Linked DNA regions of Homo sapiens. The protein of the gene in region 1 purifies or fractionates together with the protein of each later gene. This does not show direct contact. Each region holds a gene or a part of one and is shown in the gene's direction. Other genes may lie near its edges.

Region 1 (3,500 bases):
CACTTTAACACCAGAGAAATTAGCCCTGGACACCACTCTTTTTTTTTTCTTTTTTGAGACAGAGTCTCTCTCTGTCGCCCACGCTGGAGTGCGGTGGTGTGATCTCAACTCACTGCAACCTCCACCTCCCAATTCAAGCAATTCTCATGTCTCATGACTCAACCTCCCAAGTAGCTGGGACTATAGGTGCACGCCACCACACCCGGCTAATTTTTTTGTATTTTTAGTAGAGACAGGGTTTCACCATATTGGCCAGGCTGGCCTTGAACTCCTAGCCTCAAGTGATCCGCCCACCTTCCTCGCTAAGTGCTAGAATTACAGCCATGAGCCACCGCACCTGGCCCTGGATACCACTGTTTACAGCTGCGTGGTCTTGGGCAGCATGCTAAACCCTTCTGAGCTTCAGTCTTCTTGCCTTTAAGTCATTATAATAAATACCACATGAAACCGTTGTAAAGAAAATTAGCCGGGCGTGATGGCGCACACCTGTAGTCCTGGCTACTAGGGAAGCTGAGGCACTAGAATCACTTGAACCCTGGAGGCAAAGGTTGCAGTGAGCTGAGATCGTGCCACTGCACTCCAGCCTGGGCAACAGAGCAAGACTCTGTCTCAAAAAAAAAAAAAAGACTGTTGTAAAGATTAAATTAGTTTAACTAAAACGTGGAAGTGTGGTGCTTGGCATTGAGTGTGCACTTAAAACGTAATAGATATATAGATAGCTTTTTTATGAGGGAAGTGAGTAAAATGGTGTAGGAAGAAATATCACTGGATTGTTACCAAGAAACTTGGAATTCAGAACTGGCTTTGGTTACCTTAACCAGCTGAATGACCCTGAGGCAGTCTCTTGCTGATTATAGACCTTGGTTCTATTTCTTAGAAGAGGCAAAGGGACCTGATAACCGCCAAGCTCTTTTGTCCAGCCTTAGCATTCTGTGATGATATGAAAGTATTTTTCCATTACTTACAGTCTGTTCAATCTCAGCTTACTTTAACATCACAGGCAAGATTGACAGATTAGTTACTTTTTTTTTTTTTGAGACGGAGTTTTTCTCTTGGTGTACAGGCTAGAGTGCAGTGGCACAATCTTGGCTTACTGCAATTTCCGCCTCCCGGGTTCAAGCAGTTCTCCTGCCTCAGCCTCCCAAGTGGCTGGGATTACAGACATGTGCTACCATGCCCAGCTAATTTTTGTATTTTTAGTAGAGACGGGGTTTCACCACGTTGGCCAGGCTGGACTTGAACTCCTGACCTCAGGTGATCCTCCCACCTCAGCCTCCCAAAGTGCTGGGATTACAGGCATGAATAGTTACCAATTTTTAAGGGATAGTAGTTTGAGATTACCAATGATGTTCCATTCATATATGATATCCACACCTCACCTTTTGAAACATGACTCTCATAAGTTGAGGGAAATTCCATTTTTTTCCCTAACTTTTCTTAATTTGTTTTTATGATCTAGCATTGTGATTAAGATCAAGATAAAAGCCAGATTGCCAAATTCAACTATTAACTCTGCCATTTATGCGTCATAACCTACCCCATGGGATTAAATACATTACTATATGTAATGTCCATAGTCCAGCATCTGGCACATAGTAAGCATTCAGTAAATGCTAGTAGTAGTTATCAGAAAAAGGAAAAACATGCTCTCCTAAAATCCCAGCATGCTGAATGTTTGAAGTATCTTCAATATACATTTTTTGTTTGAATCACTTTGTGTGTAGGTAACATAATTTTAATTAGAGTATAGTAAAAATGTTATACTAGTCTTTATTATATTGTAAGCATCTTCTATGTTGCTCTGAAATCTTATAAGCATCTTCTATGTTGCTCTGAAATCCTATTTAGTATCTTCTGTTTGATCAGGCCAGTATTATTTTCTTAGCCATTCATCTATTTGTATTTAATTTTACATTTAGATAATTTTTAATATTTCATTATTATAAGTAATGCTGAAATGCAATTATAATGCTATAATGGACATTATATATACTTCTTTTGAAGTACATACTTCTTTGGGATAAAAATACAAGAGGAATATTTCTGAGTCAAACACTGAATATTTTTATGATCATTGATATGAATTGCCAGATTGCTTTCCAAAAGAATATTAATATTTTACATGCTAGCAGCAATGTGTGAGTACTTTCTTTATCACAATGTAGCCAGAATCGGAAGTTTTAATTTTTTAATACTTTACCAATAAATATAACATATCTCATTGTTTTCTTTTGTATTTTATTTATCAGCACAGTTGAATGCTTGTCCAGATTTTTATTAATTATATATATTATGCATACAGTATGTATATACTTTGCCCATTTATCTCTTGGTTACTTGATAATTTACTTGTTTTGTCTGAGCTTTTTACATAATAAAGGAATTAACCTTATGTGATATTTCATGCAAATGTGTTTCTCAATCTAATTTCAGTTTTCTTTTAGATATTTTATTCTTGGTTGCATAGAGAGTTTATAGTTTTAATATAGTTCGCCTTCTTTGTTTTTTATTTTGTGATTTCTTGATCATTTCTAAATGTAAAATTAGATACTACAGATATTTGATAAGTACTACTTTCCTATGTAGAAGTGGATTAATTTGGAGACTTCCTTTTCAATTCTATATATCGATATTTCCCTTTTTTACAATGATAATACATTTTTGTTTTACCTTAGTTTAATTGTCTGGCAGTACTCTTAAAACCCGCAATTATTTTTCTCTGATTCTCTTCATTTATATTGGGTGCTATAATGGATGTCTTCAAAGGCTAAATTATACACCTTAAAAACCATACTTCAGCAGCTTTCCCCCTTCTTTTCAGCTTCATCTCTTTTTTCTTCTCTACTAGATCTTTCTCGACAGCATACCAACATGCTATTACTTCTCCCATCTTAAAAAAAAAAACTCTTTTAATCTACTATACTTTTCATCTTATCACCCCATTTCCCTCTGTCTCTTTAGAGCAAAAATTCCTCAGAAGAATAGTCCAAGCCGGGCACAGTGGCTCTTGCTTGTAATCCCAACACTTTGGGAGGCTGATGCGTATAGATTACCTCAGCTCAGGAGTTCCAGACCAATCCAGGCAACCTGGTGAAACCCCATCTCTACAAAAAATACAAAAAACAAAAAAATTAGCTGGGCGTGGTGGTACATGCCTGTAATCCCGGCTACTGTGGATGCTGAAGTGGGAGAATCACTTGAGCCTGGGATGTTGAGGCTGCAGTGAGCCATGAGCATGCCACTGCACTCCAGCCTGGGCAACAGAGTGAGACCTTGTCTCAAAAAAAAAAGAAAAATAATTTTTTTAAAAAAAGGATAGTCTATACACCATCTTCACTTTCTTTCCTTCAGGGTACTCTGGAACCCATACGTTTGTTTAGACTTTTCTCTCCTTCCACTCCACTGAAATTGCCCTTCTCAGATCAATAGTGACCGCCACTTGGCCAAACTGTTTGATCCTCATCTGACTTATCAGCAGCTTTTGATACAATTGCTCACTT
Region 2 (3,500 bases), on another chromosome or scaffold:
TATTGTTAATTTCTTACTGGGCCTAATTTCTAAATCAAACTTTATCATAAGTACATATGTATAGGAAAAGGCATATGAACCCTACATGCTATATGCCCATATATAAACCCTGTATGGTTTTTCCCATACATATATACCTTATACCATATATATAGGGTTCAGTTCTATCTTCGGTTTCAGCCGTCCACTGGGGGTCTTGAAATGTATTCCCCATGGATAAGGGAGGACTACTGTACTGGATTTGGGATAGGGAAAATTTTGCCATCTTGAAACGTCTGTGGTCTTCACCAGGCAGGTGTGTCTCTGCCAGGTATGACAGAAGTGCTAGCATTCCAATTAAATAATTTCAGTGGCCTGTTGAGAATTTTTCCCCCCAAGGAACTATCTCTCTAAATTTAATTGGAAGCATAGTTTCTATGTCATGGAAAATTGCTACAGAGCCATCTAGCTGTGTGACTGTCCTACAAAACAAAGGAGATTGTCTCTATCCTTTGATTTATGGCTTTGGCTTTGTGTCTCCTCTTCCCTTTCTAAATGAGATGCCCTGTACCTCATCCCCCTGCCAGACCTACTCACTGGGAATGCTGCTTCTTTTAGCTGGGTCTGGACATCTCCAAGTATTCCACTCCCATTCTCCATGAATCATTTTCCCTAGATGGTTATGGGTGGTAAGGGGGGAGTTTTATATTTTCAAAGCAGTGGGGGTGGTAGTTTGCCTTGTGTTTATTTGCTTTTCTATTGTTCTTCCAGCACTGTATAATTGGTATAATTTTTCAATGCACAAACTCCGAAGCTCTAAAGTCTTTATAGAAAGCCAAATTCTGTTGGCACCCATGGTTCTGGGCAACGAGAACACACACATTGTCATCTGCCACCAGCCCTGAGCACCTGGAGTGAGGGAATGTGTTGGACCCCTGTGGTCTTTTGCTAACACCTTATTATTCTGCTCTGTCCTCAGTGAGATCCAGAAACCTGCTGATCTACGAGGAACATTCTCCCCCAGAGGAGTCATCCAGCCCGGGCTCGGCTGGGGAGCTGGGGGGCTGGGATAGAGGTTCCTCCCTGCTCAGGGTGTCAGGGCTGGAGTCCAGGCCGGATGTGGATCTTCCCCATTTCATTATCTCGAATGAGACCAGCCTGGAGAAGTCAGTGCTTTTGGAGCTGCAGCAGCACCTGTGAGTCATAGAGACACAGAGCCAACTCCTCTAGTGCACTGATGGTGGGTTATGAGTCAGCAACCTGAGATGTGAGGTTGAGACTCTCCATAGGCCTGGTTCAGTCCCTCAGCTCTCTCAGGACCTATTTCCAGGACCTGGGACTGCAGAGAGTCTGTTGCTGGCCAACAGTTGCCCTGAGCAGAGATGAGGAAAAAAACCAGCGTGAGCTCCCCTATGTCTGCTGCATCAGCGGGGAGCTGGCGTGGTGGCACAAAGAAGTGCTTGAATCCCTTCCCCCACTGTCTCCATCCTCCCTTCCAAGCCACACGAGTGAATGCACAGCCCAGGTAACCACAGTGTGTTTGCTGTGCAAATCCAACTTTAAGACATGTTTCATGGCTTCAACTAGGGAGTAGATATATATTGTGCTATATGTCAATATATGTTTATGATTTATATGTAAATACACATGTGTTAATTAAAACTATACATATTATAGTTTTATACTTATAGATGTATGTTGAGGGGTACCATTTAAGAGGCACTGTGCACACATTTCCATATTGAGAACAACCTCTATTTGGCTCCAATTCTACATGAGTTGTTTCTCAGTTTCTGGGAAAAATCCCTTTGTAAACATAAAGGCTTATGCGACTGCAAGGTATTGTTGTTGTAATAGGGGAGGTCCCTGGGCCTGCATGCATGCTCCTGGTTACGTGTGACATGGTTGGTGATTTAGCTGAACTCTGCTCCTATGCCTCCCAGAAATGAGGCCGTTCCGATGTAAATGGGAAAGATTTTGTTTCAGATTCTTCAGCTTTCATCCCCTAATTCTGCAGGGGAAGGTTTATAATGAAGTACTTTTATGTGTGTACATTATACATACATATTTAACATTTACTAGCACTTACTATTTTAAGCACTTTACAGATGTGAGGCAGGTTGACTATCCCTTATCTGAAATGCCTGGGACCAGAAGTGTTATAGATTTCAGATTTTGGAATATTTGCATTATACTTAACAGTTAAGCATCCCTAATCCAAAAATGCAAAATGCTTCAGTGAGCATTTCCTTTGAGCGTCATGTCAATGCTCGGAAATTTCTAGATTTTGGAGCATTTTAGATTTTAGATTTTCGGATGAGGGCTACTGAAACAGTATCATACAAATCCTTTTAAGTATCCCATGTGGTAAGGCATCATTATTATTCCCGTCATAGAGAGACTTGCCAATGTAGCCACCGCTGGGATCTCTAGAAGACCCAGTGCCTTCTTACTTGGCTCTGGACACAGTTTCTCTTCTCTCAGCTAAGCTGTTCAAGGCCCACTTCAAATCCCATTTGTTCTGTGATGTCTCCTAGATAACAAAGCCTCCTAGCCCTCCTCTGAATGCCTAGAAATTTTCCAGGTTGTTACACAATTTAATAATGTATTTATTTTCTGTTATGGATTTATTATTATTTCAAATTAGCTCATTGTTAAAAATCTTTATCTGGATTATTAGCTCTTCTAGGCCAAGGATCAGCTCTTATCATTTTATTTTCTCCTTCCCTGAGTTTAGCATAGGGCTAAACATCCTAAGTAAATAGAATAATTTAATGCATCTCATAGCAGATCAATATCAAGCCACCATGATTATCCTTAGTAGGGTTGGGATGCCTTGGGTGTAGATAAAGGTAGGAATGTGGACTAGTGGAGAGGCTGGTAGCAGGGGACTTTGGAAACAGAGAATTGCTACTAGGAGAGAAAAGGACAAGAAACATGCCCAGGCCGTCTCACCAAGTTGCAACCCCTGAATGATTGCATCACGCTACAAAGCATGAGAATTGTAGCTAACAGCTGGTGACTAATACTTCGTTTTCCTTTTAATGCCTTCACAGGGTCAGCGCCAAACTGGAGGGGAATGAAACACTAAAAGTTGTAGAACTCGACAGAAGAGTGAACACCACTTTCTAAAGAGGCTGCCTGCACCCCCTCCCTTTCCCTTAACTCTACTTTTACATCCCCAAACCACCTTTGTCATCAGCTTTTCCTCTTTGCCACTGGATCTTCATGGAGACATGGGCAAGCATTAGTGGCTTCAGATTGGAGACCAGCCTGGGACTTCCCTGCAGTGAGAGAGCATCTCCCCCTGGTCCATGCCCCTCCTGTGCAGAAGGGAGCCTGCATCCCTCCCTTCCTTTCTCTTACTGCCATAGGAAATTATTTTAGGGGTTGGAGGTGGGACAAGCAGGCTTGTTTCCACCAATAGTGCCAAAAAGATATTGCCTAATGTGCACCTGTGAGGTGTAACCCCCCGCTTTGGAGACGAGATGGCTCTTGTTCAGTCAAGACCCCAGACTCTG
Region 3 (3,500 bases), on another chromosome or scaffold:
ATTGTTCTGAATTTAACCAGGGGAACCTTTTCAAGCCTGCTTTTTTGTCCTGATATGTTCCTATAATGCTTTGAATACTTTCTTGCTTTATGGCACAACTGTATGTTCTAACTTCAGGTTGTTCCCCCAGACCTGATATTACCATTTCTCCAAGAAACTCTGTTTTTTTTAGTAGGTAATGGTATTTTGAAACCAAGAACTGGATCCTATTGCTACTATGGGGCTGCTGCTTTGCACATTCAGTGGGTATTTTGCATCTTTAATTTATATTGATAGCTCCAATTCAGATTTAGTACCTTAGGATTCTTCCTTCCTTTGCTCCATTCCATATTTATATCTCTCTTCTCGCAATGTGAGAACTCTTGTTTCCCAAACATCATTATTACTCATGTGTTTCCATCCAGCCGTACACACCAGTGTTTTCACAATTATTACATCAATGCCACTTCCAACAATAAATGTACTAAATAAAGCTAAGGTATTTTTACAGCTCTTTTTTCTTAGAATATGTTTCACTAAGGATGTATAGAAACGCCATGTTCAAAAGTTACTTGAACTATTTTTTTGCATACCTATGTTATAAATTTGTAATATAATTTCATTTGCTTGTATTTAATTTTAATATTTGCTTTTATTCTTCTGTTTGATTTATTTTTATTGTTTGAATATGTAAAACAGTTGCTTTGTTCAGAAGTCAAAATGATAGAAAAATTTTACTCTGAGGTCTCAATCTCTTCCTTGTTTTTTTAAACCCTTTTCTTACCTATGCCCATAGATAAACATTTTCATAAGTTTCTAGTTTATTCTTATGTTTCTTTTTGTAAAAATAAGCTTATATATGCATGTGTACATGTACATACATCCTTCTTTATCCTCTTCGTTCTTAAAAAAGGTAGCGCTACTATACATACCATTTTGCACCTTTTTCTCACTGAACAAAATAAGTTGCTAGTTACTCCATATCAGTTTGTAGAGATCTTCCTCATTTGAAAAAAATGGCCACATAATATTCCATTATATAGATTTACCTTGATTGATTCATTATTTCTTATGATGTTATTTTTAGTAATTTGCTATTAAAAATACTCAGACATAGTTAATGTAATACCTAAAACGTCAGAAGCGCATGACATTTAGAATTAATGGTTAATCCTTGTTACTTTTTAATGTAACAGATTGCCAGTGCAAACATGAGAAGTGTATTTGATTATTTGTTATTTAATAAGATGCTAAAAATTTCTCTAAGCATCTTTTTCCTATTTAAGCAAGACTTCTGTGAGGAAAAGCGTAGTTATGGAAGTACCTGAGAAAAATGACTACTAGTTGCTAAAGCTTTTAAAAGATTGTGAAAGTAGTTTGAGGTGATGGTTATAAAAAAATTTAAACAGTACATGAGGATACAAAGTAAAATGTAATCCTCATCCCTTCTCAGATAAGTAAGTTATTATTGAATTTATGAATATACGTATATTTATATTTTAACACAAATTAGAATTTATACATTTTTTCCTTTTAAAAAAATTTATAAATGGATATCTTGCACTATGATACACATGTGGATCTTTTTCATTCATCATAACAACTGCCTAGTATTTCTTCTCTTCATTTAACAACTGTGTAGTATATGTTTTTTGATTGTTTTTGATTGTTTATAGTCTTCAGCTTTTATAAGCATCCTGCAGTAAACATCCTTATAGCAATATGTAGGCACATTTATAATCCGTAGAATAAGTTCTTTCAAGTGGAATTACTGGGTCAATGAGTATTTAAATTTTGATAGTTATTTTCAAATTACCTTTCAAAAAAATGTTCTATTGATTTTTTTATTCCCACCAAGAGTATATGAGATATGTATTGTTTGTAATGTCTGCACAGACTTTGATTATATAGAGGTAGTATATCATAGTTTATCATAAATTCTCATGTTGGTAGACATTTTAGGTTCTTAATGATTTTTCATTATTTTAGTATTTTATTGAATCCTTGTAAAGCTAAACCTATGTCTATACCCTTTGATAATTTTCTTGGAAACTTATGGAAATAAAATTGCTAGATCAAAAGCTGTGAGAATTTTTAAGGTGCTGATGAATGTTGTAAATATCTGATGAGAAAAGATGCCAGTTACAGTTTATATAAGCCCACCTGTTTGTGAATGTGCCAGTTGCCCTAAACCCATGCAAATATTGGAATGTTACTGTTTTTTTGATCTTTGTTAGTTTGAAAGGTGAATGGCATTTGTTTTAACTTATTTGTTTGATTGTTGGTGAGTTGAATTTTTTTACTGCATAATCGCATTTATTTCTTTAGAAAATTTTGTATGTTCATGACTTTTGACTTTTGTTTTGTTTCTCCTTATTGACTAGAAAAGTTATTTATATCAAGTATTATTATACCTTTCTTGAATATATTACATATAATTTTCTTCTAGTTCTTTTTCTTCTCCTTTGACATATAGAAGTTGGCGATCTTTTTATAGGTAGATCTATTAGTGTGATGCCTCCGAAGATTTTGTCCATGCCAACACTGCATAAAATCATCATTTACATTTCCTTCTAAGGGGCTAACAGTTTAGAAACCAATATTGGGTTGCATTTTTTTCCTGATTTTACATTATTTTTAGTACAGAGATTAAAAACAGGAAGTTGAATAAACTAAATTTATTGTGTTTATAATGTTTAAATGTTATAATGTTTAAACATTAATATTAAAGGAAATAATTTCACCATGGCAATTTTAGCTTTTTAAAGATACTTTTAGGTTTGTCAAGCAGTATGAATTACTTTTCATTTTCCCAATGCCTCGTCTTTACTATTTGTATATCAATATTTTGTTTTTAGAACTAAGGCCTAAATCTGTTCTGTGTTTTTATAATGATATGAAATAGATTTATATTATATTGGATGTCTCTTGGGGTAGAAAGTAGGAAACATCTTTTAACCAAAATTTTTGGTGTTACAAAGAAGCTTTCGGAATGATTTTTACTGGTAGTCATACAAAATGAGGGTCAGTATTTCTAGCTGAAGAGATTCTGGGGGATGGGATCTTTTGTTTGAGCCTCAGTTTGGGCAGGTCCTTAAGCACTGGGTATGTTGCCTGACTCGCTGTACTTTAGCTTCCTTGTGTATAAAGTAGTAGCAGTGAAACCAAGTACATAGGGTTGTTATAGAGGGAACCTAAAACAAAGTTACTTCTTAAGTTTTTTGTAGGCATATACTCTGTAAGTCATGAGTAGAAAAACCAATATCTAAAATTTTGGCCCTGTTGAAATATGTGCGAAAATTGTTTCTGCTTCTGTTTTTTACTTGAGTGGTTGAATTACAAATATATTTATCTGCTTTCTTCAGGAAGATACTTGTTTTTTAAAGGAGCAACTTCGTAAAGCAGAGGAACAGGTTCAGGCAACTCGGCAAGAAGTTGTCTTTCTGGCTAAAGAACTCAGTGATGCTGTCAACGTACGAGACAGAACGATGGCAGACCTGCATACTGCACGCTTGGAAAAC
Region 4 (3,500 bases), on another chromosome or scaffold:
GATGCTTAGTTTGTTAGATAAATTCTTTTGAAATAAAATTTATGGTTGGTTTTATTACAACTCAATATTACTAACTCAGTGATAACTTATTAACTCAGTAATTATTAATTCAATAGTAATTTAATTATAATTTACCCTGTGTTAGGAACTTTGAGTTCTCAATATTTGCTAGGGGTTTTCAGCTTTGTGATGGTGATACTATCAAAAAAGAGACTGTCAAAATGCATTAGGAAGCCAGGCAACATGGTGAGACCCTGTCTCTTAAGGAAAAAAAATCTCCTTATTTGTATCAATATGAACAGAAAAAGTAAGACCACATATAAAAAATACATCATTCAAAGACTCTTGGCAATATATACATTGATTTACTACACTACATGTGTGAATAAAGAAAATGTGACGCTTTCAAACACGGGTCATTCTACTCCACTTGAAACAAATACATAACAATTGATATAGATGCCAATAAGATTAGAGGCAAAATAAGCTGGATATAGCTAGAATAGGAAATGATTTACACTACTAAGAAGAGAGCTAAACCGGGTACTTATGAGCTCTGATATTCTTTCATTCTTTGATTTACATGTATTTACTGAGTACCTGCTATGTGCCTGATGTGAAGAAATTGTGAACAAGATAAGATCAGTGTTGCCATTGAACATAAATTCTAGTGAGGGTGATCAGTAAAGAAACATTAAAATTTTATTTTATTATTATTTTTTAAATTGATATATGATAGATGTACATATTTTGGGGTACATGTGATAATTTGATACATGCATATAATCAAATCAGGGTACTTGGGAACCCTTAAATATTTATCTTTATGCTAAGAACATGCAAGTTACTCTCTTTTAGCTATTTTGAAATGTACAGTCAATTAGTGTTAACTAAAGTCACTCTAAGGGTTAAAGTTTTAGATGCTAAATTCAGTTTTGGGATTTAAGTGGGTAGTTATTTAAAGTAGGTAGCATACTGCCAGGCATGTAGTAGAGGCTAATGAAGTCATAGCTCCAGTCTGTTTCTCCCTACTAGATAGTAGTACATAAATAAGATACAGAAAATATGGGCAGATTTCAAGGTGAGCTGTAACTATGATGAATATGAAGAAAGTGTAGAGGACAGGGATTGTTTGGTGTAGAAAACAAAGTTTAGAGACTTCCTTTGAAGATTTTAACTTATATGAAGGACAGTGATTATTAATTTTCTCCTCCACTGAGGGGGAATTAAGGGAAATTATTTATTAAAAACCTTTAATTATGGAAAATTTCAAACATATATGAAGTAAACAGAATAGTATAATGAACTCCCATGTACCCATCACTTAATGTCAACAATTAATACTTTGCCATTTCTTGTTTGAGTGGTACCTCTGTTTACTCCCCTACCTCCACTAGATTTTTTTAATAGTTTTTTTTTGGGTAAGATTTATATACATTGTAATGGACAAAACTTAACTGCTTGATTTTTTTTTTTTTTTTTTTTTGAGACCGAGTCTCGCTCTGTTGCCCAGGCTGAAGTGCAGTGACATGATCTCAGCTCACCGCAACCTCCACCTCCCGGGTTCAAGAGATTCTCCTGCCTCAGCCTCCCAAGTGGCTGCGACTACAGGCACCCGCCACCACACCTGGCTAATTTTTTGTATTTTTTAGTAGAGACGGGGTTTCACTGTGTTAGCCAGGATGGTCTCGATCTCCTGACCTTGTGATCTGCCCGCCTCGGCCTCCCAAAGTGCTGGGATTACAGGTGTGAGCCACCGCGCCTGGCCAACTGCTTGATTTTGACAAATGTTCACATGGGTATAACTTACACTCCTGTCAAGATAGAGGTCATCTCTGTTACCCCAGGAAGATCCTTAGTGACCCTTTCTAGTTAATTCCCATGCCCTCCAGTCATCTGCTATTATTATTATTGTTATTATTATTATTATTTGAGACAGAGTCTTGCTCTGTTGCCCAGGCTGGAGTGCATTGGTGTGATCTTGGCTCATTGCAACCTCTGCCTCCCGGGTTCAAGCAAGTCATATGCCTTAGCCTCCCAAGAAGCTGAGACGACAGGCATATGCCACCTTGCCTGGCTATTTTTGTGTTTCTAGTATTTTGTATTTTCACCACGTTGGCCAGGCTGGTCTCCAATTCCTGGCCTAAAGCAATCTGCTTGCCTGGGCCTCCCAAAGTGCTGGGATTACAAGTGTGAACCACTGGGCCCAGCCTTTTTTTTTTTTTTTTTTTAAATAAACATAAATTACTGTCACCTGCTTTAGAACTTTACATTTAGGTGACCATAAATGTCCTTGACATCCTTTACTCACGATAATGTTTTTGAGATTCATCTAGGTTGTTGTACATACCAGAATTTCATTTCTCTTTATTGCTGTGTAGTAAGTGATCTGTTTTATGAATATACATGGTTTCTTTCACTTGTCCACATACGTACTATTAGGAATAAAGCAGAACATTATTGTATGAGGCCTTTTGTGGGCATATGTTTTTATTTCTCTTGAGTAAATACCTAGGATTGGAATCACTGGGTAATAGGATAGGTGCAACTTTATAAGAAACAGCTAGAGCTTTTTGTACTGTTTTACCTGCCCACCATCAATACATGGGAGGTTGTGTTGCTATACATTCTCACCAACAATCAGTTGTTTGCAGTCATGTATATTTTAGTCATCTTAATGGGTATGTAGTTTGTGCTTTTAATTTATATTTCTCATTTTGGTTTTAGTCTGTATTTCTGTGATGATATTAATATTGACCACTTTGAATTTTCATGCATTTATTAGCCATTTGTTTATCTTCCTTTGTGAAATGTCTTTTCAAGTTCTTTATCCATTTTAAAAATTGGATTTTGTTTTTATTGAGTTGTAGGAGTTCTTTTAGTTTTTTTTTGGTATATATATATTCTGCTTTTAAGTCTTTTCTCAGTAGTTTTGCTAGGTTGTGAAGATGTTTTTAATGCATTTTTCTAGAGGGTTTACCAATTTATCATTTAACCTTTGTTAAGGTCTATGATTTATTTTGAGCTACTATATGGAGGGAAGTAGGGATCAAGTTTCTTCTTCCTTTTTTTTGTGTATGGATATCCTGTTGTTCTAGAACCTACTTTGGAAAACACTTTTTCCATTGAGTTGCTTTGTCACCTTTATTGAGTAGTTGACCTAAGTGGTCTACTTCTGGAGTCTGTATTCTGTTTCATTAGTCTATTTGACTATCCTTATGTCAATACCATATTGTCTTTTTCTTTTTTTTTTGAGACAGAGTCTCACTCTGTCACCCAGGCTGGAGTGCTTGATCTTGGCTCACTGCAGCCTCCTGCCACCATGTTGGCCAGGCTGGTCTTGAACTCTTGACCTCAGCTGATCCGCCCGCCTCGGCTTCCCAAAGTGCTGGGATTACGGGCATGAGGCACTGCGCCCGTCGTATATTGTCTTGATTACTGTAGTTTCAGGTTTCCTAACCTTGGCACTATTGACATTTTGGGCCACATTGTTGTGAGGC

What was found. The genes of interacting proteins can lie anywhere in the genome.
Region 2: the proteins of REEP3 (region 1) and CREB3L2 purify together in Homo sapiens (co-immunoprecipitation; one large-scale study listed by IntAct). This does not show direct contact.
Region 3: the proteins of REEP3 (region 1) and TAX1BP1 purify together in Homo sapiens (co-immunoprecipitation; one large-scale study listed by IntAct). This does not show direct contact.
Region 4: the proteins of REEP3 (region 1) and RAB3GAP1 purify together in Homo sapiens (affinity purification with mass spectrometry; one large-scale study listed by BioGRID and IntAct). This does not show direct contact.

Annotation. Positions count from the first base shown.
Region 1 is NC_000010.11:63,524,401-63,527,900, forward strand, and holds part of REEP3 (receptor expression-enhancing protein 3), read left to right. Parts: intron 1-3,500. UniProt on the Homo sapiens protein: Microtubule-binding protein required to ensure proper cell division and nuclear envelope reassembly by sequestering the endoplasmic reticulum away from chromosomes during mitosis.
Region 2 is NC_000007.14:137,880,087-137,883,586, reverse strand, and holds part of CREB3L2 (cyclic AMP-responsive element-binding protein 3-like protein 2), read left to right. Parts: intron 1-958; coding exon 959-1,175; intron 1,176-3,035; coding exon 3,036-3,111; 3' UTR 3,112-3,500. UniProt on the Homo sapiens protein: Transcription factor involved in unfolded protein response (UPR).
Region 3 is NC_000007.14:27,788,662-27,792,161, forward strand, and holds part of TAX1BP1 (tax1-binding protein 1), read left to right. Parts: intron 1-3,344; coding exon 3,345-3,500.
Region 4 is NC_000002.12:135,058,792-135,062,291, forward strand, and holds part of RAB3GAP1 (rab3 GTPase-activating protein catalytic subunit), read left to right. Parts: intron 1-3,500. UniProt on the Homo sapiens protein: Catalytic subunit of the Rab3 GTPase-activating (Rab3GAP) complex composed of RAB3GAP1 and RAB3GAP2, which has GTPase-activating protein (GAP) activity towards various Rab3 subfamily members (RAB3A, RAB3B, RAB3C and RAB3D), RAB5A and RAB43, and guanine nucleotide exchange factor (GEF) activity towards RAB18.